Linked DNA regions of Homo sapiens. The protein of the gene in region 6 interacts with the protein of the main gene of each other region in a biochemical or structural test. Each region holds a gene or a part of one and is shown on either strand. Other genes may lie near its edges. The genes, in order: NEDD4, SIAH2, UBR5, UBE4B, UBE3C, UBE2D2 and RNF111.

The links.
Region 1: the proteins of UBE2D2 (region 6) and NEDD4 form a complex in vitro, tested with the Homo sapiens proteins (19 studies listed by BioGRID, with this or other methods).
Region 2: the proteins of UBE2D2 (region 6) and SIAH2 form a complex in vitro, tested with the Homo sapiens proteins (4 studies listed by BioGRID).
Region 3: the proteins of UBE2D2 (region 6) and UBR5 form a complex in vitro, tested with the Homo sapiens proteins (12 studies listed by BioGRID, with this or other methods).
Region 4: the proteins of UBE2D2 (region 6) and UBE4B form a complex in vitro, tested with the Homo sapiens proteins (6 studies listed by BioGRID and IntAct, with this or other methods).
Region 5: the proteins of UBE2D2 (region 6) and UBE3C form a complex in vitro, tested with the Homo sapiens proteins (4 studies listed by BioGRID).
Region 7: the proteins of UBE2D2 (region 6) and RNF111 form a complex in vitro, tested with the Homo sapiens proteins (6 studies listed by BioGRID).

The regions. Positions count from the first base shown.
Region 1 is NC_000015.10:55,986,818-55,990,939, reverse strand, and holds part of NEDD4 (E3 ubiquitin-protein ligase NEDD4), read left to right. Parts: intron 1-4,122. UniProt on the Homo sapiens protein: E3 ubiquitin-protein ligase which accepts ubiquitin from an E2 ubiquitin-conjugating enzyme in the form of a thioester and then directly transfers the ubiquitin to targeted substrates. Specifically ubiquitinates 'Lys-63' in target proteins.
Region 2 is NC_000003.12:150,752,645-150,756,766, forward strand, and holds part of SIAH2 (E3 ubiquitin-protein ligase SIAH2), read right to left. Parts: intron 1-4,122. UniProt on the Homo sapiens protein: E3 ubiquitin-protein ligase that mediates ubiquitination and subsequent proteasomal degradation of target proteins.
Region 3 is NC_000008.11:102,293,987-102,298,108, reverse strand, and holds part of UBR5 (E3 ubiquitin-protein ligase UBR5), read left to right. Parts: intron 1-502; coding exon 503-651; intron 652-1,124; coding exon 1,125-1,216; intron 1,217-2,326; coding exon 2,327-2,473; intron 2,474-2,576; coding exon 2,577-2,695; intron 2,696-2,778; coding exon 2,779-2,905; intron 2,906-2,997; coding exon 2,998-3,127; intron 3,128-3,993; coding exon 3,994-4,122. UniProt on the Homo sapiens protein: E3 ubiquitin-protein ligase involved in different protein quality control pathways in the cytoplasm and nucleus. Mainly acts as a ubiquitin chain elongator that extends pre-ubiquitinated substrates.
Region 4 is NC_000001.11:10,035,628-10,039,749, reverse strand, and holds part of UBE4B (ubiquitin conjugation factor E4 B), read right to left. Parts: intron 1-4,122. UniProt on the Homo sapiens protein: Ubiquitin-protein ligase that probably functions as an E3 ligase in conjunction with specific E1 and E2 ligases. May also function as an E4 ligase mediating the assembly of polyubiquitin chains on substrates ubiquitinated by another E3 ubiquitin ligase.
Region 5 is NC_000007.14:157,176,466-157,180,587, reverse strand, and holds part of UBE3C (ubiquitin-protein ligase E3C), read right to left. Parts: intron 1,899-4,122; coding exon 1,741-1,898; intron 1-1,740. UniProt on the Homo sapiens protein: E3 ubiquitin-protein ligase that specifically catalyzes 'Lys-29'- and 'Lys-48'-linked polyubiquitin chains.
Region 6 is NC_000005.10:139,616,328-139,620,449, reverse strand, and holds part of UBE2D2 (ubiquitin-conjugating enzyme E2 D2), read right to left. Parts: intron 1-4,122.
Region 7 is NC_000015.10:59,028,751-59,032,872, reverse strand, and holds part of RNF111 (E3 ubiquitin-protein ligase Arkadia), read right to left. Parts: intron 2,070-4,122; coding exon of another isoform or gene 2,051-2,069; coding exon 1,171-2,050; intron 1-1,170. UniProt on the Homo sapiens protein: E3 ubiquitin-protein ligase. Required for mesoderm patterning during embryonic development. Acts as an enhancer of the transcriptional responses of the SMAD2/SMAD3 effectors, which are activated downstream of BMP.

The DNA.
Region 1 (4,122 bases), on a different chromosome or scaffold from region 6:
AAGAGATCACCCTGGCTGCATGTGCAGGATTTTACCTTTAAAGTGTTAACAAACAAAGGAGGAAGTGTAGTATAATTTATACCAGATTTGCTCTGGTCACTTGAGATTCACAGTAGAGAATAACATGCACTGATCTTTATTGGAGAGCAGTGTGGTGGATGCGGGGACTGGAATTGAGCATCACTTCCCACCTCCTTCCCATGCACCTCCCTGTGATATGGAGGTGGGAAAACTAAACACTGTTTCCCACACTCCATTGAAATTAATGGACTGGATCCAAAGTAGGCTCCCCAGTTAAGTGCACTTACTTGAGATTTGCAGAGTGGAAATGAGGTGGAGCATATTGTTTTGTTTCTTTGGCTTTTTCTGCTGATAAGCACAGTCATGTAAACATCTAAATTTTCTGCGAAAGTATTCCAGTATCTGGTAACTTGCTTTGTACATATTGATAGGAAGTCACCGAAGTAGTGGTGGTAGTGGCTTCCAGACGTCAAGATTGATTATATTCTTGAAGTCATCAGTTCTGGTGATGACTCCTGATCATCTACCTTTCTGACTGGGAGAGGTAGTAGCTTCCTGGATGGGTCAGTTCTGCCATGTTTCTGATCTTCTAGAACTGCAGTCCCCAACTGTTTTGGCACCAGGGACCGGTTTCATGGAAGATAGTTTTTCCATGGACCGGGGATGCGGTCCAGTGGTTTCAGGATGATTCAAGCACATTACATGTATGGTGCACTCTACTTCTATTATGATTACATTGTGATATGTAATGAAGTAATTATACAGCTCACCGTAATGTAGAATTAGTGGGAGCCCTGAGCTTGTTTTCCTGCAACTAGATGGTCCCAAGTGTGGGTGACGGTAATGGGAGACAGGGAGACAGTGACAAATCATCAGGCATTAGATTCTTATAAGGGGTACACAACCTAGATCGCTTGCATGGACAGTTCACAATAGGGTTCATGCTCTTATGAGAATCTAATGCCGCTGCTGATCTGACAGGCAGCAGAGCTCCGGAGGTAATGTGATCGGTGAGGAGTGGCTGTAAATACAGATGAAGCTTTGCTCACTGGCCTGCCACTCACCTCCTGCTGTGTGGCTGGTTCCTAAGGTTGGGGACCCCTGCTCTAGAAGTCCAGCCTAGCACCTACTCTTCCAGCTCTTCCAAAAATTTTGTAAGCATCTAATCCCCTGTATTAGCTTCTTTCTTCTTAAAGCATCTAGAATGATTTCTGTTTCCTATAAGAAAGGCTGACTGAAGCAAGGAAAAGAAGGAAGGAAATAAAGAGGAAAGAGTTCAGAGTCTCCGCTATCGGTATGGAGAGTGCAGTTTGCACATACAGAATAATAGATGCCCCTGGTGGCAGCAGCCACAACAGTGCATAAGTAGCAGGGTAAGAAGGGCATATTCTGATACTTCTGGACCCACTAAGGCTGAGCAGAAACTGACCCTTACTCAGTCTGGGAACAAACTTCCCAAACCTTTATGTACTACACACAAAGGAGGAGAAGCATAGGTTAAGCAGCAGCTGTATTAGTAATTTCTCCCAATCTTTCATGTATTGTTTTTGCCATTAGTGCTTTTTTGCAACTCTTTAATTCCAGGATCATTGTAAAGTATTTTTCATGGAGCAGGGACTAAAGAAGTGAATAAATATAGTGTATTTTTAAAATAATTTATTTTTAAATTATGTATTTACTTTTGAGACGGAGTCTTGCTCTGTCACACAGGCTGGAGTGCAATGGCGTGATCTCAGCTCACTGCACCCTCTGCCTACCAGGTTCCAGCGATTTTCCTGCATCACCCTCCAGGGTAGCTGGGATTATAGGCACGCACCACCACGCCCAGCTAATTTTTGTATTTTTGGTAGAGATGGGGTTTTACCATGTTGGCCAGGCTGGTCTCGAACTCCTGACCTCAGATGATCCGCCTGCCTCGGCCTTCCAAAGTGCTGGGATTATAGGCGTGAGGCACCGCGCCCGTCCTATTTTAAAATTATTTTAAACCATCAGAAAAGTTGAAAGTACAACACAAAGAGCTCCAGTATTCTTCTCATACAGATTCTGCAACTGTTAACCTTTTCACTGCAATTGTTCCATCACCTTTTTTTGCCATTTTCATTAATCTTTTTCTGAACCACTTGAGAGCAAGCTGCAGACACAATGCCCCATCATCTTTAAATACTCTAGTGTGTATTTTTCTAAAACAAGAATACTTTCCTGCATAACAACCATACCCCCTTCCAAGCTAGGAAATGGACACTGATACAACAATGCCATTCAATCCACAGATACCATCCAAATTTTGATAAATGTTACTAATAATTTCTCTTTTTCCTTTTCTGGTCTAAGAACCTATCTGGGAACATATATTGCTTTTACGTGGCATGTCTTTGCAGTCTCTTCTAATCTGTAACATTTCCTCAGTTTTTCTTTTTTTTTTTTTTTTTTTAATTTTTTTTTTTATTATACTCTAAGTTTTAGTGTACATGTGCACATTGCGCAGGTTAGTTACATATGTATACATGTGCCATGCTGGTGTGCTGCACCCACTAACGTGTCATCTAGCATTAGGTATATCTCCCAATGCTATCCCTCCCCCCTCCCCCGACCCCACCACAGTCCCCAGAGTGTGATATTCCCCTTCCTGTGTCCAAGTGATCTCATTGTTCAATTCCCACCTATGAGTGAGAATATGCGGTGTTTGGTTTTTTGTTCTTGCGATAGTTTACTGAGAATGATGGTTTCCAATTTCATCCATGTCCCTACAAAGGACATGAACTCATCATTTTTTATGGCTGCATAGTATTCCATGGTGTATATGTGCCACATTTTCTTAATCCAGTCTATCATTGTTGGACATTTGGGTTGGTTCCAAGTCTTTGCTATTGTGAATAGTGCCGCAATAAACATACGTGTGCAATGACTTTCTTCACAGAATTGGAAAAAACTACTTTAAAGTTCATATGGAACCAAAAAAGAGCCCGCATCGCCAAGTCAATCCTAAGCCAAAAGAACAAAGCTGGAGGCATCACACTACCTGACTTCAAACTATACTACAAGGCTACAGTAACCAAAACAGCATGGTACTGGTACCAAAACAGAGATATAGATCAATGGAACAGAACAGAGCCCTCAGAAATAATGCCACATATCTACAACTATCTGATCTTTGACAAACCTGAGAAAAACAAGCAATGGGGAAAGGATTCCCTATTTAATAAATGGTGCTGGGAAAACTGGCTAGCCATATGTAGAAAGCTGAAACTGGATCCCTTCCTTACACCTTATACAAAAATCAATTCAAGATGGATTAAAGATTTAAACGTTAGACCTAAAACCATAAAAACCCTAGAAGAAAACCTAGGCATTACCATTCAGGACATAGGCGTGGGCAAGGACTTCATGTCCAAAACACCAAAAGCAATGGCAACAAAAGCCAAAATTGACAAATGGGATCTAATTAAACTAAAGAGCTTCTGCACAGCAAAAGAAACTACCATCAGAGTGAACAGGCAACCTACAACATGGGAGAAAATTTTCGCAACCTACTCATCTGACAAAGGGCTAATATCCAGAATCTACAATGAACTCAAACAAATTTACAAGAAAAAAACAAACAACCCCATCAAAAAGTGGGCGAAGGACATGAACAGACACTTCTCAAAAGAAGACATTTATGCAGCCAAAAAACACATGAAGAAATGCTCATCATCACTGGCCATCAGAGAAATGCAAATCAAAACCACTATGAGATATCATCTCACACCAGTTAGAATGGCAATCATTAAAAAGTCAGGAAACAACAGGTGCTGGAGAGGATGTGGAGAAATAGGAACACTTTTACACTGTTGGTGGGACTGTAAACTAGTTCAACCATTGTGGAAGTCAGTGTGGCGATTCCTCAGGGATCTAGAACTAGAAATACCATTTGACCCAGCCATCCCATTACTGGGTATATACCCAAAGGACTATAAATCATGCTGCTATAAAGACACATGCACAGTTTTTCTTATCCTAGACAGTTTTAAGAAGGACAGGCCTTGGCCGGGCGCGGTGGCTCACGCCTGTAATCCCAGCACTTTGGGAGGCCGAGACGGGTGGATCACGAGGTCGGGAGAT
Region 2 (4,122 bases), on a different chromosome or scaffold from region 6:
AGATGTCTCTCAGGCAATGTTTGGAATATACTTATTATTCTTCTCCGGCCCCGCAAGTTATTTGTTGTTTATCTGAAATTCAAATTTAACTGGGCACTCTGTATTTATCTGGCAACCCTAATAAGAGGACCTGCTGGTACCACTGCCATCCCTGCAAAAGCCACTCCTTGGGTCTAGAATGGGAAGAGGGATCACTGTTCCTCAGAAGGGTAGAGTGGGCACAGAAAAAGCAAGAGGTTGTAGTGAAAAAGACACTGTATATGTAATTAGTCCAGACTGGAGTTTCTGCCCCCAAACTTAAAAACTGCACGAGCATGGGTGCCTAGCTCGGGCCATCTATAAGCAAGGCAAGCAACATCCTTCACAAGCAACTTTGCTGGCCTCCCACACAGCCTCCTTATGAGCTTCCATCCCTTCTTTCTTCACAGGCAAACCGCTGCGCACCTTCAACATGCAGCTGGTGCCACCATGGCAGCAAGGTCTTCGGACTCCTTTCGGCTCCTAGTACTTCAGACGGGCTCTGCCCTATTGGCACATCTGTCTCCACCAGTAGACTTAGGAGAGTTTCAGAAAGACGAGAGGGGTGAGCAGAGGCAAGAACTGGCTAGGCAGATGGGTTGTGGGAAGGAGAGGGCCTGGAACTGCAGGAGATTCCAAGGCAAGAGTGAGTATGATGTAAAGTTGGTGGGGTCAGCAGCGGCCAACTCTGGCCTGACACTGCACCAGGGAGAAAAAGCAGGCTGTGGCATTAAGAAAACCAAAAGGTAACACCCAATGTCGGTGCTGCTGGGAAGAAATGGACATTCAACTGTAAACCATTCTAAGGGAGAAAACAATTTGGTTCTACTATCAAAAAGCTTCAATTTCTCAGGCCGGGTGTGGCGGCTCATGCCTGTAATCCTGCCACTTCAGGAAGCTGAAGCCGAATCACTTGAGCTCAGGTGTTCAAGACCAGCCTGGGCAACATGGTGAAACCCTGTTCCTACAAAAAATACAAACATTAGCCAAGCCTGATGGTGTGTGCCTGTAATCCCAGCCACTCAAGAGGCTAAGGTGGGAGGATCCCCTGAGCCCAGGAGGTTGAGGCTGCAGTGAGCTGTGATTATGCCACTGCACTCCAGCTTGGATGACAGAACTAGACCCTGTCTCGAAACAAAAAACAAAAAAAAAACACTGAGATTTCTGCATATACCCTTGGGCTCTACCATCCAACTTCAAGGAATTTAACTTTAGGAAATAACTATATTTTTGTGTACAAAGATTTGGTTATAGCAGTGCTTTAAAAAAAAAATCTCAGTAAGAAAAGAGAATTTAAATGACCACAAATAGGAGCCTGATTAAATAACTCTGGTACTGTTATAGAACTGCAATATGTGGCCATTAAATATGATCCTAAAGAATATTTATCACTGTAGAAAAGCAGTCACGATGTGTTAGATAAAGAATGTGTTAGATAAAGAAGCAGATTATGAAACAGTGTAGACAATAGGATTCCTCACCTGTATTGTTCTATTCTCAAATTGCTACAAAGAAATACTTGAGACTGAGTAAGTTATAAAGAAAAGAGGTTTAATTGGCTCACGGTTCTGCAAGCTGTACAGGAAGCATAGTGGCTTCTGCTTCTAGGGAGGCCTCAGAAAGCTTCCAATCATGGTGGAAGGCAAAGGGGGAGTGAGGCATCTCACATGGCAAGAGCAGGAGCAAGGGTGGGAGAGGTGCTTCACACTTCTTAAATAACCAGATCTCATAAGACTCACTATCATGAGAACAGCACCAAGAGGATAGTGCTAAGCCATTCATGAGAAATCCACCCCCAAGATCCAACCACCTGCCCCAGGCCCCACCTCCAACATTGGGGATTACAATTGAACATGAGACTTGATGGGGACATAGACCCAAACCATATCACCATCTCACTTGTTTTGTTTTTGTTTTTGTTTTTAAAGAAAAACTCCACCGATGTAGAAATAAGTTTGCAAGGATGTATGCAAAATGGTATAGTGGTTATCTTTAGGTGAGGGAGATTATAGGAGATTTTAATTTTATACTATTTTCTATATGTTCTACATTTAAAAATAATCATAACTTTAGAAAACATAATATGTAAAAATACACAAAATATAATACATATAATTTAAAATGCTGCTTAATCTAACCAGTTTTCCCTCTCAAAAAATTTAAAGAAATGAAAAAAAATCCTCATCACTGAAAAACCAATACAAGGGCCAACTTACACAGCTCTATGAAAATGCTATATGATTAAGAGTAGGGAAGGGAAGCTCATTGGGAAAATCTATGGGAAAAAATAGGAATGATTCCTTTTTTTCAAGTTTATGCATGAACCTGACCTCAGACATCGGCCATTTAGTTTCTGTTAGCTTCTAACTGAGCACATTTATTTAGTGCCTGGGCTGTGTCAGGCACTTTGCATGAATTATTAGTGTGTTTGGTCCTCAAGGCAACCTTGAGGCTTGGAGAGGTCACCAGCCAGTCACAGTGGGGCTGGAGTTGGGATTTGGACCAGGCCAGATGAGGGGCTGCCCTCAAAACTGCCAGAGTTAGAGGGATCCTGGGGGTAAAAGGGACCCAAAGATACTATCTTTGCTGATTCAAAATTTTAAAGCAGTGCATAGGCCGGCGCATTAGCAAAAGAATATTTTTCTTTTTCTTTTCTTCCCTTTTTTTTTTTTTTTTTTTTTTTTTTGAGACAGGGTCTCACTCTGTCACCCAGGCTGGAGGGTATTGGCAAGATCTCAGCTCACTGCAGCCTGGACCTCCTGGGCTCAAGCGATCCTCCCACCTCAGCCCTCTGAGTAGCTGGGAGTATAGACACGAGCCACCATGCCCAGCTAATTTTTGTATTTATTTATTTATTTTTTTTATTTTTTGAGACGGAGTTTCACTCTTGTTGCCCAGGCTGGAGTGCAATGGTGCGATCTCAGCTCACCACAACCTCCGCCTCCTGGGTTCAAGTGATTCTCCTGCCTCTCAGCCTCCCAAGTAGCTGGGATTACAGGCATGCGCCACCACGCCTGGCTAATTTTTTATTTTTAGTAGAGACAGGGTTACTCCATGTTGGTCAGGCTGGTCTCGAACTCCCAATCTCAGGTGATCTGCCCGCCTCGGCCTCCCAAGTGTTGGGATTACAGGTGTGAGCCACTGTGCCTGGCACAAATTTTGTATTTTTAGTAGAGACGGGGTTTCACCATGGTGGTCAGGCTGGTCTTGAACTCCTGACCTCATGATCTGCCCTCCTCAGCCTCCCAAAATGCTGGGATTACAGGCATGAGCCACCACACCTGACCAGGAATATTTTTCATCCATCTGTATATCACCTGTGGGCAAAAACTGAGAACAGGAAAACCCTTTTATTCCATAGATGCTACACAGTCTAAAAATCATTACATAAAATCTTTACCAAACTGGAAATGAGGAAAACAACAGTTTTGCAATCTAGGGCAAAGCTGATGAAATTCTGTAGAGCATTTCAGTATCCTTCATCAGCCTTAAAAGGATACCCCGAATCTTAAAATAAAGATACATTTGATCAGGAAGACTTTCTTATTTTCCTTTTCAGGATGTCCAGCGTGGAACCACATTCAAATACCCTGTGTATGATCATGTCCTGAAAAACTCGCCAGCAATACACAGTGGCTCCAAATGCTGGCACTGGTACACAGTTTAGCAAATGTGTATCTGCTACGTGCCCCTTTCAAGGAGTGAGGACCTTATGGGTTTGAATAAGAACGGCCATGTCTCACAAATTTTGTCAGAAGCAAAATCTGATGCTTAAGACATTTTACAGTGAAGCCTCACTATATTCATGTATACAGTACTTTTTAATGGGGCTTCAAAAAACAGCTCTACCACAGAACGGGAGAGTCTATCCCAATCTTGGGCTGGTATTTTATAGGCCAGACCTGCTGTAACTTTTGGTAAGCCTCTGTTCTGGTTATACTAAGGCTCAACTTTCACTGATAACTATTTACTCTAGTTCCAGGTCATGGTGACCTGTGAAAAATCTTTGGCCAGTTATGTGTGGAATTACCATTAAGCTTAAGTACTGCCATATAGTATTCTAATGCTTCTGCTTTATACAAAAAGTAAACTACAACGAAAGGT
Region 3 (4,122 bases), on a different chromosome or scaffold from region 6:
TGATAGAACCTCTTGGTAGTTAATTGGTGTTAAGTGATATAACTTTACAGAATAATAGACAGATGTCTTGTTATTTCTGACAGAATTCCTGCTAAATAGAAAGCATTAAGGAATATCAATTCTTACCTTCCAGCCTTTGAAAGATTAAAGTAGTTATCTTTTTAAAACACTGATAAATAGTTTATGAGATGGTCTATAATTTGCTAAATAGAGCCAGGAGTTGAGTCTTAACTGCCTGAAACAGAGCTAAGGATTCAGATGGCTGATGTATAGTGTGTTTGTATTGGCATCATATGTGGGTATGATGTAATTATGCTTTACTTTATATTGTTCCAGAGTTGGTTAGATTTCTTTGCATGTCATCTTTGTATATCACTTTTTAAAATTGATATATAATTTCTGGTTTATATTGTGTGTATGCTAAGGCTTTCCAGTTGAAGAAAATGGATGGCTAATTAAGTCCTTTCCTGAAAGATGAACTGCTATGTTCTTACTTTTTTAGCTGAAATATCCTCAAGTGAAAAAGAGGAAGATGTATTCATGGGAATGGTTTGCCCATCAGGTACCAACCCTGATGACTCTCCTTTATATGTTTTATGTTGTAATGACACTTGCAGTTTTACATGGACTGGAGCAGAGCACATTAACCAGGTAAGTTATTTCTACATTTTCCTGTATTAATCATATCTTTGTGTCTTTTTTCGCTATGACTATCACTAGACTTACAGTTTTCAGCTTTGGAATTAAGTCTGATATGAAGAAAGTTGATTTAATTCCTAAGTAAATGAGGCAAAAGAGCTGATTGCTCAGTTAAATATGGCATACCATGAAAATTGGAAATTTTCACTGGGTAGTATAATCTGATCCACAAATCTTGATACAGATTTTATAACTACAATGCCTTTTTGGGGATGATACAAATTATTTTTTTCTACTGGTAATATTTCTATTTGTATATCATAAACTGTATATTTGCTGTAGCCCTTTATAAGTTCTAGTTTTCCAAAGCACATTAATTTTGTTTGTTGAGATTGAATTGTTCTAGAAAATACCAGAAATAATTATTATGATGAGATATATGCATACTTATAATTATTCCTTTAAAAGTACACTCTTAATTTTAGGATATTTTTGAGTGTCGAACTTGTGGCTTGCTGGAGTCACTGTGTTGTTGTACGGAATGTGCAAGGGTTTGTCATAAAGGTCATGATTGCAAGTGAGTACAATTCTAGTTTTCTTTAGTTTAATATTATAAGCTGTTTAGATTTATATTGCTGTATGGAAATAATCTGTACTAAGTCATGTTTTACTTCAGAAAGCATGAGGTTACTTACGTTTCCCTTGTTTAAGTCAGTTTATGTATAATAGTGTGATTCTTGATTTAAAGTATACTGTGAAATGTTTGGTTTCTTTGCTAGTTCAAACATTGCCCTCCTTAAATAAAAGTAGGTGATTATACATTGTAACTAGGATCAGATTAGTCTTTTGAGAAGTATATCTACAGAATGTTCCTGAGTGTATTATGCAGCGGAGGTCTCAGGTCCCCTGTAGTGGGGTATACTAGGAGAAAATTGCCATAGGCCTAGAGGGAATCATGGTGAATGTTTAGACTGTGTCTTAAACTAAATGCAACAGTCTTTCATTCAGCAACAGTTACCACAGCTAGTTCTGTTGGTTTTCAGAGACCTGAGAAGCAATGAAATACCTAGCACTAACATCTGTGGTGTTTTAGGATTATGGATAGGGACTTCAGTATAAATGGCTACAAATGTTATAATAGAGAATTGGACTGTAAAAACCATCTACCGTACCATTAAGTAATTGTATAGGACAAATGAAAAATTTTAATAGATATTAAAAGAATTCTGGTTGGTATTTTTTGTTTTCCTTATTTTAAGTACCTAAAGGTGTGATAATCTGTTGTTATTGATTGTTTTCCAAGTGTACTAGATGCCAGGGTGGTGGTGAATAGTCCTGACAGTGTTCACATCCCTATCAGAAGCAAGAAATATCTGCCCATAGGGTTACAGGGTTCATTAGGTCATATAGGAGGACCACTTGAACAGGACTGGGAATTAGGGAAGAGATTCCAAAAGTGATTGTACCTTAGAGTACCTCTTCTCATAGGAATTCTGTGTTGCTTTATAGATGTCATTACTACCAAGTAATCCTTCTTGTTATATAAGCTTTGACAGTTATACTTTGCATTTAGAAATTAACAAGGGCTCTCTCTGGTTTCAGTGAGTTATACCTTCATAATGTCAACATAAACCTTTGTATGTTTAAAAAATTTCAGTTTTTGTACTTGTGTATAAATTCTCTATAGACTCAAACGGACATCACCAACAGCCTACTGTGATTGTTGGGAGAAATGTAAATGTAAAACTCTTATTGCTGGACAGAAATCTGCTCGTCTTGATCTACTTTATCGCCTGCTCACTGCTACTAATCTGGTTACTCTGCCAAACAGCAGGCAAGTGGGATTTTTAGAACATACAGTAAGTTAAATCAAAAGAGCGCAGCACAGCTGAGTAGCTTTTCAGCCTCCCTCCTCACGACAACATTCTGTTTTGCAGGGGAGAGCACCTCTTACTATTCTTAGTACAGACAGTCGCAAGGCAGACGGTGGAGCATTGTCAATACAGGCCACCTCGAATCAGGGAAGATCGTAACCGAAAAACAGCCAGTCCTGAAGGTGAGTTAATTAGACATTTATGACACTTGTGGGAAGCAATATGTTTTATTTTTGTTTTGGTCACTATTTCTTTTTCATTTTAGATTCAGATATGCCAGATCATGATTTAGAGCCTCCAAGATTTGCCCAGCTTGCATTGGAGCGTGTTCTACAGGACTGGAATGCCTTGAAATCTATGATTATGTTTGGGTCGCAGGAGAATAAAGACCCGTACGTATTCATTAAAACCTTTTTAGATTTATGTATTTCCTACGTTAGTGTAGACCTTTTACAGTTCATTCTGTCTTTCGTTTCTCCTCAAGTCTTAGTGCCAGCAGTAGAATAGGCCATCTTTTGCCAGAAGAGCAAGTATACCTCAATCAGCAAAGTGGCACAATTCGGCTGGACTGTTTCACTCATTGCCTTATAGTTAAGTGTACAGCAGATATTTTGGTAAGTTCTTTGAATGTGTATTACAAGTACATGAAAAGTATGTTTTTCAAGTACTCTTCTTTGCTGTGAAACTAGAAAAGAATTTAAACCTTAAGATCCAGTGCGAATGAGGTTATGGTAATAACACACTCAGATAGGGATGGGGTGGCATTGCATCGTTCCTTTCTCTGGAAAACATAAAACTATCAGTGCCCTCAGAACCTGTCATAAATAAATAATTTACGATGTGAGAAAAATAAAGGCATGTCACAGAATAATGTAAAATTTAAAAACAGAAAAATATCAGCCTAATACTAGTGTAATCTTGAATCAAATTATAGCCTGACCACTTACTGGAATATGATGCAGCAATTTAAAAATAAATCGTATTGTAAATAACGTAAAAAAAAAAACCAAACAACCAAACTGTGAAAATTGGGTGTTCTCTGTAGCTAACATTTATACAAGAAGCTGCACACAGAAAAGAGACTAGAAAGTAATAATGGTTCCATGAGGGAGATGGGATTATGAATTTATTCATATAAATATTTGAGTCTGCTTTGCTGTTTTGGAAAGTGCCCCAGACTGAGTTTATGTTTTCTTCTTCTGATTTCATATATTTGGTATTGTTCTTCTAAATATTAGTTGATATACCAAGGACTGTGGGACAAAAAATAAGAAATCGTACATTTAGGACTCACTGTATGTCAAGCACATTGGCAGGTATATTTCATAAACTGACCTTGTAAATGTTTTGGTTAAATTTGTTTTGAGATTTTATTATAAAATGTTAATACTTAAAAAATGTTAGAACTTATAACTTTATGAATGTCTAAACATCTTATGAAGTATCTTAACATTAATAGAGTGAATATAATTTTTTAAAGCTTTTAGATACTCTACTAGGTACACTAGTGAAAGAACTCCAAAACAAATATACACCTGGACGTAGAGAAGAAGCTATTGCTGTGACAATGAGGTTTCTACGTTCAGTGGCAAGAGTTTTTGTTATTCTG
Region 4 (4,122 bases), on a different chromosome or scaffold from region 6:
GTTCAAACTCAGCCACGTGCAGTGGCTCACGCCTGTAATCCCAGCACTTTGGCAGGCAGAGGCAGGTGGGCCACTTGAGGTCAGGAGTTTGAAACCAGCCTAGTCAACATGGTAAAACCCCATCTTTACTAAAAATACAAAAAAAAAAAAAAATCAGCAGGGCATGGTGGCATGCACCTGTAATCCCAGCTACTTGGGAGGCTGAGGCAGGAGAATCACTTGAACCCGGGAACCAGAGGCTGCAGTGAGCCGAGATCATGCCACTTCACTCCAGCCTGGGCAACAGAGAGAGATTCTGTCCCAAAAAACAACAACAAAAAGAAAGTTCAAACTCCTAAACGTTTCTGACAGCCCTCCAAGATCAGGTACCTGCCACACACCCGAGGTAAAACCCACCTCTCCAGTCACACTACTTGCTGCTGTTTCTTGAGCTCCCCAATTTCGAGCCAGTTCCCAGGGCAACTGCTACTCAGCGTTAAGTATCACTTTTTCTTGAAAGTCTTCACTAAGACCCTGCCTCTCCCGGGGTCCCTTCTCATGTTTCTTAAGTGAGTTGTGCATACCTCCACCATAGCACCTGGCACTATTCTATAACTGTTGGATTCCTATCTATCTCCTCTACTCAAATTTAATTATAATTGCTTTTTTGTTTGTTTTTCTGTGTGTGTGTTTTTTTGTTTGTTTGTTTTTTTGATGGAGTCTTGCTCTGCCTCCCAGGCTAGAGTACAGTGGCGCAATCTCGGCTCACTGCAACCTCTGTCTCCTGAGTTTAAGCAATTCTCCTACTTCAGCCTCCTGAGTAGCTGGGATTACAGGTGCGTACCATCACACCCAGCAAATTTTTGTATTTTTAGTAGAGACGGGGTTTCACGTGATCCGCCTGCCTCGACCTCCCGAAGTGCTGGGATTACAGGCGTGAGCCACCGCGCCCGGCCCCAACTCCCAAATTTTTAACGCGACAGGCATTTAAAAAAAAAATTGGGAGTGGGAGGACCAGTACCAAAAGCCCTGATCACATCATGAATGCATTCATGCAAAACAGCACTTCTACAGAAAAACTATGTATATCAAAACAGAGTGGGTCAGTGTTACGTAGGATGTTGATACAAAAGCTGTGGTGAATTTATGTCAGTTGTTGAGCAGTAGAATAAAGAGGACTTTCGAGTCCAGAGCACTGGGTTTGAATTCCAACCCCATCACTTCTAAGCCAGGTCGCTATGGACAAGTTACTTAACCTGAATCCCAGTTTCCTGACTTGTAAAATTAGGAAAACAGTACCTGCTTGATTATAATGTTTTCTCTAATGAGAAACAGCTATCAAGTGCCTGGCACAGAAGAGGCTCCTAAGGCTGTTGTTTAATGTCAATTTTCTTCCACTTACAGAACCTTGCTAAAAAGTCCAAGGTCACATATTCTGCATTTGGAAAGGAATACTTAAAACACTTTCTAAATCTTTTTTTTTTTTTTTTGAGATGGAGTTTCACTCTTGTTGCCCAGGCTGGAGTGTAGTGGTGTGATCTCGGCCCACTGCAACCTCCGCCTCCCGGGTTCAAGCAATTCTCCTGCCTCAGCCTCCTGAGTACCTCGGATCACAGGCATGTGCCACCACGCCCAGCTAATTTTGTATTTTTAGTAGAGATGGGGTTTCTCCATGTTGGACAGGCTGGTCTTGAACTCCCGAACTCAGGTGATCCACCCACCTCGGCCTCCCAAAGCGCTGGGATTACAGGCGTGGGCCACTGCGCCCGGCCAACACTTTCTAAAATCTTGACCACACCCGGAATCCCAGCCAACCATCTTGCAGATGAACTAGGTCATAAAGAAGAGTTAGGAGAGAAAAATCACTTATGCAATCTCATTACCATTGTCGAAAAACAGTTTAAAACACCTACTTGGCTGGGCATGGTGGCTCATGCCTGTAATCTCAGCACTTTGGGAGGCCAAGGCGGGTGGATCACTTGAGCCCAGGAGTTTGAGACCAGCCTGGGCAACATGGTGAAACCCTGTCTCTAGAAAAAAATACAAAAATTGGCCAGGTGTGGTGGCATGAGCCTGTAGTCTCAGCTTGGGAGGCTGAGGTGGGAGGATCACTTGAGCCCAGGAGGCAGAGGTTGCAGTGAGCCAAGATCATGCCATTGCATTCCAGACTGGGCGATAGAGCCAGACCCTATCTCAAAAATAAACACACCACCTACTCACAGCACCACCTTGAGATACGAAAAACAACACATGAGTAGATTATAGAATTAATATAATGTAAATAATGATGCCTTGGAATGTAGGTTCCTGAAGAGAATGAACTTAGTCATGGTTCTGCAATGAACCTATAGGCAGTGAACTATAGGGCAATGAACTCACTGTAATACACTATATAAATAACAAACAACAGTGAAGTTAAAGTACTCTACTTAAAAGCACAAGACTACCGGGCACAGTGGCTCATGCCTGTAATCCCAGCACTTTGGGAGGCCGAGGCAGGCAGATCACCTGAGGTCAGGAGTTCAAGACCAGCCTGACCAACATGGAGAAACCCCGTCGCTACTAAAAATACAAAATTAGCCGGGTATGGTGGCGCATGCCTGTAATTCCAGCTACTTGGGAGGCTGACGCAGGAAAATCGCTTGAACCCGGGAGGCAGAGGTTGCAATGAGCCAAGATCGCGCCATTGCACTCCAGCCTGGGCAACAAGAGCGAAACTCTGTCTCACAAAAAAATTTAAAAAGCACAAGAATTCTAGGTGATCTATGACAGGGACCAAAAAGTGCACATAATTTAAAAGTTCCTAAAGCTACCAGTCTGGTTATACCAGCCTTTTTCACGGACTGTATAATCATACATTTTCATTTTGTTAAAATATGAAACTCTGCCTTACCTAATTTCCTAAATTAGATTAAAAGATCACCGCCTTGCCTGTTTTAACCCTGAAATATAAGCTTGAAGTTTCAATAATATAAGTGTATTATTTTGTAATCAAATCAATGTCACCTACCATATCTGACACAAGTTTTCAACTACAGAGTAACAATACAAAGGCAAAAGCTTTGGAAATGTCTCATGAGAACTGCTTACCTAACCTCAAAAATTTTTAATTGAATTAAAAAGAAAAACTTCAAAGATATTTTTCCCAAAATAACTATTTGTCTGGCTCCCACTTTGGGAGGCTGAAGTGGGAGGATCGCTTGAGGTCAGGAGTTTGAGACCATCCTGGGAAACATGGCAAGACCCCCGTCTCTACAAAAAAAAAAAAGATTTTTTAAATTAAAAACAAACGAATATTATTTGTTCTAGGTTCTGCTGAGAGTAAAATTAACAGTTATTGAACCAGCCCTTTGTGTTCTGGACAACTAATTTGTTGAAGATAATTTTACATTGATCCTGTATTAGTGAATTTAATTTTTTTCATTTATTTTAATATTCTGTTGACCTTGAAAAAAGTTTATTCTATTTCTTCCACAAAGGTTACATGTGTTCCTCATATGGTCACAAAAAAAAGTTACACCTTCCTCAAGGACTGATGAAAGTGAAGAGACACATTTTAGATTATACAATATCTTCACTGGTCTGTAATGCCTCACTGGTTTGAAAAGAATTTTTTGGTGAAAACTCAAGTATGCAAAAGCCTCTAAACCAAGGACTATTAACAGATCATCAAAAAAAAAAAAAAAAAGTAATTTATAGGAGTAAAGGACTACTAAAAAACTACCTCGGCCGGGCGCGGTGGCTCACACCTGTAATCCCAGCACTTTGGAAGGCCGAGGCGGGCGGATCACGAGGTCAGGAGATTGAGACCATCCTGGGCTAACACGGTGAAACCCCGTCTCTACTAAAAACACAAAAAATTAGCCGGGCGTGGTGGCGGGCGCCTGTAGTCCCAGCTACTCGGGAGGCTGAGGCAGGAGAATGGCGTGAACCCGGGAAGCGGAGCTTTGCAGTGAGCTGAGATCGCGCCACTGCACTCTAGCCTGGGCAACAGAGCGAGGCTCCGTCTCAAAAAAAATAAAATAAAATAAATAAAAAATAAAAAAAAATAAAAAAACTATCTCTGGCCGGTCACGGTGGCTCACGCCTGTAATCCCAGCACTTTGGGAGGCCGAGGCGGGCAGATCACAAGGTCAGGAAATC
Region 5 (4,122 bases), on a different chromosome or scaffold from region 6:
CGTATTTGGTAGCACATTAAAAACAATCCATCTGCATGGGCTAGTTTTTGAAACAGTCCTACACAGCTTCGTATTTGAGTGAAGATCACCAAACAATGCATACTCAGTACTTTATCATTAGACCTACTTTGTAACTACCCCAAGTCTAACCTAGTGTATACTGATAACTAGTGAAACTCATATGAAAGCTTGAAAGCTCTTTTGCTATGAAACTAAAAAGATAAAAATACATCAAGAATTTTAAAAAATACACAGAGACTTTTTTAAAAAAGTGACTAACATAACTAACAATGTACTTACTGAATAGACTGACAACATGACAAAGGTTCTGTTGCAAATGTTAAAAAGCTTCATGGCACAGAATGTGCAATAACAATACAAATAATGGTAATACTATAATTTAAAAGGCTAAAATTTTATCGACTGTTAGAAAGTAAACAACTGCTGTACCACAGAAGATGCTAGAAGCGGCAGTTTCTGTGTAAGATTTTTAAGCATTTCGTATATTGGGACACATTTCAAATAATGCATATTTCTTAAATATCTTCCTTACAATTTTAGAAAACAAATACAAATTCTCAAACGCTTAGTCTTAAAACAGTATATATGTCAACTAACACAATGAACCACTTTTAATTATTAGTTTTTAAAAAGATCAAATTCCACAACTTTCAGTTTACTTTTAATTAACTCGGAATACTGTTTCCCTAAGTTTTCAACAAACTAAGGAGTCTAAAAAATAGTAACACGCCAAGCAGCAAGGCTGAAATGAGTATGCGTTTAATTTCTGTAGTTTTGACAGAGGACCAAGAGGACCAAGTGGTCCAGACTTCAAGTCCGTTAGATGTAACCCAGACTATGACTTCAGGTGAAGGAAAGCACAGCTGCTTATAATTCTGTCTGCAGCCACGGCTCTCCAGACCTCCCTTCACAACTAGTCTCACGCACATTTTTAATGCTGACAAATACTTCTCGAGCCCAGGAGTCCTGAAGTGCTTGGGTTTCTACCTATGAGGATGTCGAGACCAAAGGTTCTTTTGTGTTAGGATTTATACTGCTCACTTCATAAAATTTTTAAAAATCATGTTTATTTCATCCTTTTTCTCCAGAAAGTGTCACTAATGTGTCCTCAAGGGTTTCAGATGCAGTTCAGTATAGCTTCTACGATGCAGTCATTTTAGGAGCATTATCAATGTATTAAAACTTTAGCACTGAGTTAGAAAATTCAAACTAAATATCCTATTCTCTTCTACTGAACTAATGTGAAAGGACCTCACTCTTGGAAGAAAAATCATTTAACAAAATTTACTTTTTCATAAGGCTCTTGGAGTGATGTTCAACTCATACATTGGTGGCATTACCTTTCCCATTCACTCAGAATGACCAGGAGGTGGTAAGAGCCCTTCCTGGTCAGGTGAAGGACCGGCAGCTGCACTGCAGACACCAATCTTGGATGACGGGACAACTGATGAAAGCATATGTCAATTTTGGTTCACTTCCAAGCAAAAGAAAAAGGCAAAGAGAGTAGCATGTTTCTGAATTTTCAGAGTGGGTGGAGCCAAGGACAGATTTTGGAATCTGGGACTCTGGTGGGCACCTGTGGATGGAGCACAAGGCGTCTGGGACACCAGTACCGCTCTGACATTGAGACTGAGGGCACAGGCTCACAGCAGCAGGCTGGCCTCTGCTCACTCCCCATCAGGATGCTGAGCCACAGTTCTGATCCTGCCTACTACTTACCATTGTGAATCATGTAGTGCAAAATTTGTTCAATCACTGACACCACATAGCTAGCATCTTGTAAAACAGGCAAGTAAGTATTCTCAGACGAAAATACTTCAAGCATTCTCATTGGAAGTGCAACATTCAAACTGTCATCATTACAGTTTTGCAGCAACCTGTAAAAATGAAAAAAGTATTCACACACTTACAGGATGGCAAAATGTCACCAGTTTCCCCAAGTTACTCTCAGTGACAATGGTTAAGAAACTATTCCAGTACAAGATTATCTCTGAAAATAGGGACATCTTACAGATAGACAGGGAAATCATCCAACTAACATTCAGTCATTCAGACAGTTTTTAAAAGAATTCTCGTTATGTGCCAAACGGTATGCTGGCACTAAGTTCACAGACAAGAAAAATGGACAGTGGAGAAATGAACACGAAAAATTAAAGATTACAAAACACTGTAAGAAGTATTATAATCCATGAATTGTACCAAGAAGCTGCATTTAATTAAACTCAGATACGAATCTCTTTAACAGTGCATCTCATCTCCTTAAAGATGCTTTTGAGACTTTCCACGCCTGCAATATCCCCCAAATAGAACAATGATATATTTCTGGTCCTAAGTCAACTCTCATTTTGACTGAGGCTTCCCTTCTTACTATGAGAAGAACTGCAGGTTAACTATCCGTTTAGAGAGGGCAGCACAAGCAGTCGGGCAGGCCGCACCAATCAAGACACAGAGCACATCTGCCACTCCCGAAAGTTTCTTCTTGGCTGTCTCTAGTCCACTCCTCCCTCTTTCCCCCCACCCCAATCCTTTTTTCTATCAAAAACTTTGTCTAACACCGAACTTATTTTTAGATTTCTCCTGTTGCTTTCACAAGGTATTTTACAGCTGTTTTTCCTTTTTCTTAAAAAAAAAAAAAAACAGAATCCATCTGACCACACATCACCTTTAATGAGGGACCCAGGAGGCTGTTTCAATGCCTCACTGAAACTAACTTCTCTATGTGACAAAAGCCTTCTGCCCTGCCAGGAGGGGAATAACGTGCAGGGTTCTGGGTGGGGTGTGTCTACACGGCTTATCCGCTTACCGCAGGCTGCCTTCTGTCTCAACAGCCGCAAAGCCCAGGAGAGACAGGGGGTGAGGACCCAGCGGGCAGGCTGGGCAGGACACCCAGCCAGACCTTGTTTTGTCTTTGCCCTTTTCACAACTTTCCCCTCAGCACCACACTGGTGTCTCTCGAGGGGTGTACGAGTGCAGGAGGAGCGGGGCTACACATAACAAGCCGCTGGGACGCAAAGGGCAGCGGCGGGCGGTGGGAGAGCCTCTTGTCAACCTGGAAAAGTCAGCAGCATGTGTGCTGATAATCCCATGTGAGAGGTAAACCTGATAATGCAACAGAGAGAAGTGCTGGAACGGTGCCTCGTGTGAGAGACAACATAGGATGTAGCTCCAGGTTTATCGGGACAGCCTTGGACGGGAAAAGGATATCCATATTGTCAAGAGACAACCCACCTTAAAAAATGAAGTAAAAGATTTGAACAGACTCTTGAAAAAGAGCCATCTGAGTGACCAGTATGCTCCTGAGAAACACCCGTCATCATTAGTAATCCAGGAAATACAAATTCCAATCACAATAAAATACAGCTACACACCCATCAGAATGGCTGGGTTTTGACAAATGTCAATACCAAGGGTTCAGGATATGGAGGAACTGCGCCTCTCCTATGCTGCTGTCCTAAGTTTGGTAGTTTCTTCTAAAGTGAAATATATAACTACTATGTGACCCAGTGATTCCATGACTTCAGAAATGTTCAACGGCATTAAAAAATATGTATGTGATTAGTCATAAAAGGAGCTGCAGGTGGTTCTGGAAGGCCACATTTACAGAAAAAGAAAAATTCAATGTTCTGGCACGTGGCAGATAAGACTGTCGACTTACTAACATACACTTGAAGTACAATTTCTAACATTTACATTTTGTTAAAATTCCATTTCTCATCAAAAAGAATCAGTGCTCCTTAGAGAAAACAGCCCCAGGCCTGGGGCAGAGAGAGCACTTAAGGCTTTGTGACCTCACAGAAAACAAAGATCTCTCAAAATACAAATGAGGCCAAGCCAAGAAAAACGGGCTGCTTACAGGGTGCTCTCTACCTATAAGCAGACCATTAAAAGTCATCTGTCACACACTGTATTTTAAAAAATACATGAGACCTTACTGAGATTAAAGAGGAAAGATGAGGAGGAGTGTTTTCTTGTTGTTAAAGAAACATGGGTTTGGCTGGGCACGGTGGCTCACGCCTGTAATCCCAGCACTTTGGGAGGCCAAGGCAGGCGGATGACCTGAGGTCAGGAGTTTGAGACCAGCCTGGCCAACATGGCAAAACC
Region 6 (4,122 bases):
GTATTTCCTGGAAATGACAACAGGGAAGTTAGAAATTTTTGAATGTTCCTTTAACTTATTCTTCTAAATATTCTAATAAGTCAACTTTAAAGGACAGGTTTTAAAGAAAGGGCTTTTCTTTCTTTCCAGGAAAGGAGAGTACTGGCTATCTGGACCTTGTGAAAAGATTTTTAGTACACTACTTAGCTTCTTGATTTCATGAAGAATTCATTTTGGTTTCTAATATACTGATATGGTTTGGATCTGTGTCCCCACACAAATCTCATGTTCAACTGTAATCCCCAACGTTGGAGGTGGGGCCTGGTGGGAGGCGACTGGATTATGGGGGTGTATCCTTCATGAATGGTTTAGCACGACCCCTTTGGTGCTGTTCTTGTGATAGAGTTCTCATGAGATCTGGCTGTTTAACAGTGTGTGGCACCTCCCCCATCTCTCTCTTGGTCCTGCTACTGCCATGTGAGACAGGTGGCTCCCCCTTTGCCTTCTGCCATGAGTAAAAGCTCCCGAGGACTCCGCAGAAGCAGATGCTGCCATGCTTTCTGTATAGCCCACAGAACTGTGAGCCAATTAAACCTCCTTTTTTTTTGAGACGGAGTTTCACTCTTGTTGCCCAGGCTGGAGTGCAATGGCGCGATCCCAGCTTCCTGCAACCTCCGCCTCCCGGGTTCAAGCGATTCTCCCGCCTCAGCCTCCCAAGTAGCTGGGATTACAGGCATGCACCACCAAGCCAGGCTAATTTTTGTATTTTTGGTAGAGATGGGGTTTCTCCATGTTGGTCAGGCTGGTCTCAAACTCCCGACCTCAGTGATCTGCGCATCTCGGCCTCCCAAAGTGCTGGGATTACAAGAGTGAGCCACCGCACCTGGCAAAACCCTTTTCTTTATAAATTATCCAGTCTCAGGTATTTCTTTATAGCAGTGCAAGAATGGACTGATACATATACTATACCTTCTTCTGTAAAGATAGTAACTCTTATTTCTATAACCTGTATAGTCTCTTCACTGAACTTTTACCTATATATATTCTTCATCAGTATTACTTTTTTTTTTTTTTTGAGACAGACTCTTGCTCTGTTGCCCAGGCTGGAGCACAGTGGTGTGATGTTGGCTCACTGCAACCTCTCCCTCCCAGGTTCAAGTGATTCTTGTGCCTCAGCCTCCCGAGTAGTTGGGACTATAGACACACACCACCCTGCCCTGCTAATTTTTGTATTATTGGTAGAAATCAGGTTTCACTATGTTGGCCAGGCTGTTCTTAAACTCCTGACCTCAAGTGATCCACCTTCCTTGGCCTCTCAAAGTGGATTACAGTCATGAGCCACTGCGCCTGGCCAGTATTACTTTTTCACTAGTGTTACAGCAACAGTTACTTTCACTTCTAAAAACATATAATCAAATGGCTTTATGGCACACTTATCTGCTTCCCTTCAGTTTTTTTCAGTGTTTTTGTTTTTGTTTTTTAAATATTTAGGTCCCCATCACGGACCTTCAAAGTAGAGTGAATACTGGGTCAAAATTTCTGTCCTTGAAGACAGACTATATGTTAAAGGAATAATATCATATACAGGATTAAGGCATTTCATAGAACTACTTGCCCATACATTCAATTTACAAAAAGGGACTCATTAAAACCTTAAATCTGAGACAGTTAATACAATCAAATTCAACAAAATGGCACTGCAACTATTTTAAAGGATAGCTATCCAGATAGAGAGAACCTAACAAATCAGACTTGTAACAGTCCTTATCATTTGGAATAGCTGAAAAAAAATCAACGCTAGGCAAGGGGAAGAACAAAAAGAGGTATGGCAATAATTTCAGCTATCTTGTGTCTCCAACACCTCACCCCACCAAACACACACCTCTCACACAATTCTACTTATCTTGGTCCCATTACTAGATTTACATCTCTATTGCTATTTGGTGAAGGAAGTGCAACCAATGGGACCCTCACCAGGCCAGGCACAGGTCCACAAACACTTTCTCAAGTAGCTCTTGAATTGTAAGGGGGCCTACCAAAAGAAAAGGGGACACTTCTCTAAAAAACTATTTCATTAAAGTTGTAATAACTTTAAAAAAATGTGGTTCTCTGGCATCCTGTTTTTATTTCTGCCTGGGACTCCAAAAATTTTAAATTAATGTCTCAGAGTTTTGTTTGCTTTAAAAAATTAATTTGTGGCCAGGAGCAGTGGCTCACACCTGTAATCCCAGCACTTTGGGAGGCTGAGGCGGGCGGATCACCTGAGGTTGGGAGTTCGAGACCAGCCTGACCAACATGGAGAAACTCCGTCTCTACTAAAAATACAAAATTATCTGGGCGTGGTGGTACATGCCCTATAATCCCAGCTGCTCAGAAGGCTGAGGCAGGAGAATGGCTTGAACCCGGGAGGTGGAGGTTGTGGTGAGCCGAGATTGCGCCACTGCACTCCAGCCTGGGCAACAAAAGTGAAACTCCTTCTCAAAAAAAAACAAATAATAATAATAATAATTTTTTTTTAAGATTGAGTCTTGACATCCAAGTGATAACATGACAAATACCCAACACTTTTGACAACTGTGCCTTTATCCCCAGTTTTTGGAGTACTTACAAGGAACCAGTTAACTGTCTGTTTTTGCTTCTTTAATCTTCGTAACAACAATGAAATATGTATTATTGTTCCTTTTCTACAGATGAAAAAACTGAGGAATACAGGGGCCAATGTGTCTCTAGCCTCATTTAATAAGAGGTGGATCTGAGATCTGAACACAGGCAATTGGATCTAGAATCTATGTTCTTTACCATGAAACTATGTTGCTTCCTGTCTAAATACATGCATTAAACAAATGGTAAATTATAAGCAGATAATTTCTACTTAATGGTTCAAATGGTAAATTATAAGCAGATAATTTCTACTAAAAATACAAAAATTAGCCAGGCGTGGTGGTGGGTGCCTGTAATCCCAGCTACTTGGGAGGCTGAGGCAGGAGAATTGCTTGAACCCGGGAGGCGGAGGTTGCAGTCAGTCAAGATCACACCATTGCACTCCAGCCTGGGCAACAAGAGCGAAACTCCCTCTCAAAAAAAAAAAAAAAAAAAAAAATCACACACCACATTTCACCACACAAATACCAAAACTAACATTGCTTGTCTATTTCTGGACACTCAACATACTTTTATATGTAACTCTTGTTACAGTGTATATGCCTTTTTTCTTTTTTCTGCTTTTCTCAAGCACAGTATTTTCCTATTTTCACAATATTTGTAAAGATCAATACTTTTTTTTTTTTGGAGACAAAGTCTCCCTCTGTCACCCAGGCTAGAGTGCAATGGTACCATCTTGACTCACTGCAACCTCCGTCTCCCGGGTTCAAGTGATTCTCCCGCCTCAGCCTCCTGAGTAGTTGGGACTACAGGCACGCACCATCACACCTGGCTAATTTTTTGTATTTTTAGTAAAGATGGGGTTTTGCCATGTTGGCCAAGCTGGTCTCGAACTCCTGGTCTCAAGTCATCTGCCCATCTCAGCCTCATAAAGTTCTGGGATTACAGGCATGAACCACTATGCCTGGCCAGGGTCAATACTCTTTTAAATGCATGTGCTGGAACCGATCTATTTTTTCCTCTACTGTAAGTAACCTCCAATTTTCAGAACTAAATCACAATGTCACAAATGTACTTGTATACAAAGTTTTTTCAGCATTTGGGATTGTTTTCTTAGTATAAATAAATGAAACTAGAATTATTGGGTGAATGGGCATGGATGATTAAGTCTCTTAACACATACTGGCAGACTGGGCTCTACAAATCTATACCTCTACTTGAAGAATATGAGTGTTCATTTCAATGTACCTCATTAGTGTTTTGTCTTCTTTTAAAAATATCTTTGTTAATTAAAAAGGTAAAAAATAGGAACGTAACATTCATTTATTTATTCTTTGGTTCCCCTGTGTCCATTCATCTATTGGGATCTGAATTTTTTTCTGATTTTTGTACTTCATATTTTAAACATATTAATCCATTACCATATTTGATTTTTCTCTTAAACAACTGATTTCATTTTCACAAAAGTACATCCAGTGAACTCTTTTATCACCTTTCAGAGTACAGCAGTGAGATCTGATAAATATTCTTGTTTTTGAGACG
Region 7 (4,122 bases), on a different chromosome or scaffold from region 6:
GAGCACACAGGCTCAAGAGCACTGATAGGAAATAGTCCCTACCCAATTTTAATTGATGTATCATATGCACTGTCGAGACTAAAAGTCTCTGGGTCCTAGTATTAGAATAAAAGTTACTTGAAATTACTTTTCAGCTATAAAGAACATGATAACAGCAAACAACAAGAATATAGTACTTAAAGAAAAAATATTGAGAGCCCAAGGCAGGTGGATCGCCTGAGCTAAGGAGTTCAAGACCAACCTGGGCAACTTGGCAAAACCCATCTCTACAAAAAATACAAAAATAAGCCAGGTGTGGTGGTGTGGGCCTGTAGTCCCAGCTACTTGAGGCGCTGACGTGGGAGGACGGCTTCAGCCCAGGAGGTGAAGGTTGCAGTGAACCAAGACTGCATCACTATACTCCAGCCTGAGCAACAAAGCCAGATGCTGCCTCAAAAAAACAAAGGAAAAAAAATTAACCAGTCTTTTTTAGTGACTAGAACTGTTCTTACTATGGCTGAATCCATCATACAGGTAGCTGAAAAAGTATTCATAACAGTCAAGCATATTAAAGAAACACAAGGAAAAAAATGTGTACCATAAATGAAGAACATACATAAAATATAATCTAATATGTATAAAATGTAATAAATGAGGCCAGGTACAGTGGCTCATGCCTGTAATCCCATCACTTTGGGAGGCTGAGGTGGGCAGATAATTTGAGATCAGGAGCTCAAGACTAGCCTGTTCAACATAGTGAAACCCCGTCTCCACTAAAAATACAAAAATTAGCTGGGCATGGTGGTGGGCACCTGTAATCCTGGCTACTTGGGAGGCTGACGCAGGAGAATTGCTTGAACCCAGGAGGCGGAGGTTGCAGTGAGCCGAGATTGCGCCACTGCACTCCAGCCTGGGTGACAAAGTGAGACTCTGTTTCAGAAAAAAAAAAGTAATGAAGGGTTATTCTCCCAAAAAACTCTGACTTATTTTTGTCACTAGAAATTTTTTAAATTTTTATCTTAGCATTAGAGTCATGGTTTAATACTGCAATTGGTAATTTATATGACTTAAAAATAAAAGTTAATAGAACCTGATAGTCCCTTTAAATAAAATCAGTAAGACACAAACAAAAAATTAAGCACAAATGCAATGCAATAGGTTCCATGTTTTACTCAGCTTAAACATTTTTACCTGAGGGAACAGCTGGATTGTTTTGGTGGTTTTCACTGGCAGAAACAAACAAATCTTCTTCTCCTTCAGTTGATGAGCTAGAAGAGGATTCACTGCTGAGGTCATTCTCACTGGAACTACTAGAACTAGGTAGCAAGGCATATTTTCTTCGAGCTAACACTTCTCGTTTCTTCCTCTGCATTAATATCCTCTCTTTTTGTTTCTGTGTCCTCTGTGAGGAATTATTTTTTACAAATCTCTTTCTGCATGGAAGTCTCCGTAACGAACTGCCATGTAAACAGGGTCTTTTCATTAACAATCCCGATACAGATTCTGTCTCAGTCCGAGGCCACTTATGAGACCGTGCACTATGGCTTCTACTTTTAGCATTCAAAATGGTCTGGGAATGTCTTACAGAGACTTCTTTATCCTCATCTGAAGTCACAGTATCAGAATCTCCAAAATGCAGACTAGATGAAGGAGAAGAAAGACAATCACTAAAAGAGGAATCATTATCTTCATCACTTGGTGTCCCTAGGTGTTGCCTCAGTCCTAATATTCCCTGGTTTTCTTTAACACAATTCTGCACATACGAAGGGCCAGCCTGCTGGCTTTTGCGTTTTTTCCTCACAACGAGACTTTTTTCTTGTTCTTGCTGGTTACCATTCATTTCCTTCTCTTGCTTTTGAGAATCATCACACAGGTGAGAGAATTCATTCCCCACTTTACTATTAATCATCTCAACTCCTGCAGGAAAACTTTTGGCTGCCCCAATGGGCTCTGGATGCAAAAGGATCCCTTTCAGACTCTCCTGTGTCTTTGGTGCATCAGAAGGAATCTCACTCTTCATATCCACTTTTAAGGTGTAGAGCTCGTTATATTCAGGAGTCCATTGAGACATGGGAAACTTTAAGGAAAGCCTAGAAGACAAAATTAGATATTTAAAAGATTTTTAATGTGTTTTATTATACTATTTAATTGAAGAGTTCTCAAATTCCACCAAGAAGATCCCTTATAAAGGCAGAACTGTCTTTTCCTCATCAGTACACAAAATGTCTGTTATGAATTATTTTACTATTCTTATAAAACGTTTTTCTCTGGTCACTCTACTCATGCATCCAATTTTTAGAAATACAGTAGATATAGAGCATAAGCCTACTTAAAAACTTCTATTAACCAAAAACTGATCTTATTGCATATCTCACTACCTTCAGCAACAAAACATATTTGGTCAAATCAAACAATTACTTCAAAACCTATTTCAGTGAAATATAAATAAAAGGATTCGAATTCAAAAGACTAATTAGTCAACATGTTTTACTCCTGGTATGACATTTTTAAGTGGTTATTATTAAATGTTTCTGTACATCTAGATGGTTACTACATTAGATTGATATTATTAATAATGAGCTAATGAATATAAGCTTCTCTTTTCTATTTTTTTTCCTTCATACTACTCTATTAATTCTCTAATGAGAATCTGAATTCTCCTGATAGTAGACACAACTACTGCATTTCAGTTTTAAATACAAAAAGATTAGAGCCAAGACTGTGGGCTGCTGAAGATCATTCAGTTAAATAAACAATACAGCAGAACATAAAATCAAACTTTGTACAGCTAATCTATCTAAATCATTCAACATCTTAAATTACGAGCTGCCAAAAAGAGATCTGAATTTAAAGCATTTACATCAATGCAATGTACATATGAAAATAATGTAATAGTAAATATCATGACTCAAAATGAAATATATTAATCAGAAAGGCAGTAAATGTGACAAATGAAGAGCTTTACTAGTGCAAAACATGAATAAACAATGTTAACATATTTTTAACAAGTTTTTATTAAGTATAGCATACACACATATTCTAAGTTTATAGATGAATGAACACTAAAAAAATGAACACCTCTATGTAACTGGCACACAGATAAACAACATAACCAGCACCCTAGAAATCTTCTTCCCATTACTACAGCCCACCAAACTGTTAACCACTATTGTAACTTCTGACACCACAGATTTGTTTTGCCCATAAAATACATTTTGAAACCAGTTCCTAAAAAGCGAGTACAACAGCTGTTTAGTAAGCAAGTATTTTCCCTCTCTACAAATGGGTTACAGAAATATATAATCTTACAGGTCTCCCATGTTACTATAGTATATAACTTTACTATCAGAACAAATGACAATAATTAAGGCATAGAATGACCTATTCCTACAGAAAGCTATCAAAACCACTATCTTCTTTTATTCTTATTCACAAGCACAGGCAGTGCTGTATCCAAGATCAGCCATCACGCGCTATCTGTAGTTCAGCAGGATCAGTGATAAACCAGGAATACAAAGATGAGTGAACATGAGCATGGCAATGAGCAAATTACAGAAGGCAGCCAGTCAGACAAGGATCACTTTAATTAAAGGCAAGAACACAGAAGTCACAATGATAAAACACAGGTACATGTGATCTAAGAGTTGAATGGGGCCAAACAGGATGGCTGTAATAAAGAACACAGGTAATAACAAGTGTTAGAGAGGATGCATAAAAAAAAAACATTGGAACCCTCATATATTGCTGATGGAAATGTAAAATGATACAAGCTACTTTGGGAAGCGGTCTAGCAGATCCTCAAAAATTAAATACAAGCTGGGCGCGGTGGCTCATGTCTGTAATCCCACCACTTTGGGAGGCCAAGGCGGGCGGATCACTGGAGGCCAGGAGTTCGAGATCAGCCTGGCCAACATGGTGAAACCCCATCTCTACTAAAAATACAAAAATTAGCCAGGATAGTGGCGCACTGACTGTAATCCCAGCTACTTGGGAGGCTGAAGCATGAGAATCGCTTGAACCTGGGAGGCAGAGGTTACAGTGAGCTGGGACTGCACCGCTACAGTCCAGCTTGAGCAACAGAGCAAGACTCTATCTCAAGAAAAAAAAAAAAATTAAACACAAAATTGCTATGTGACCTAGCAT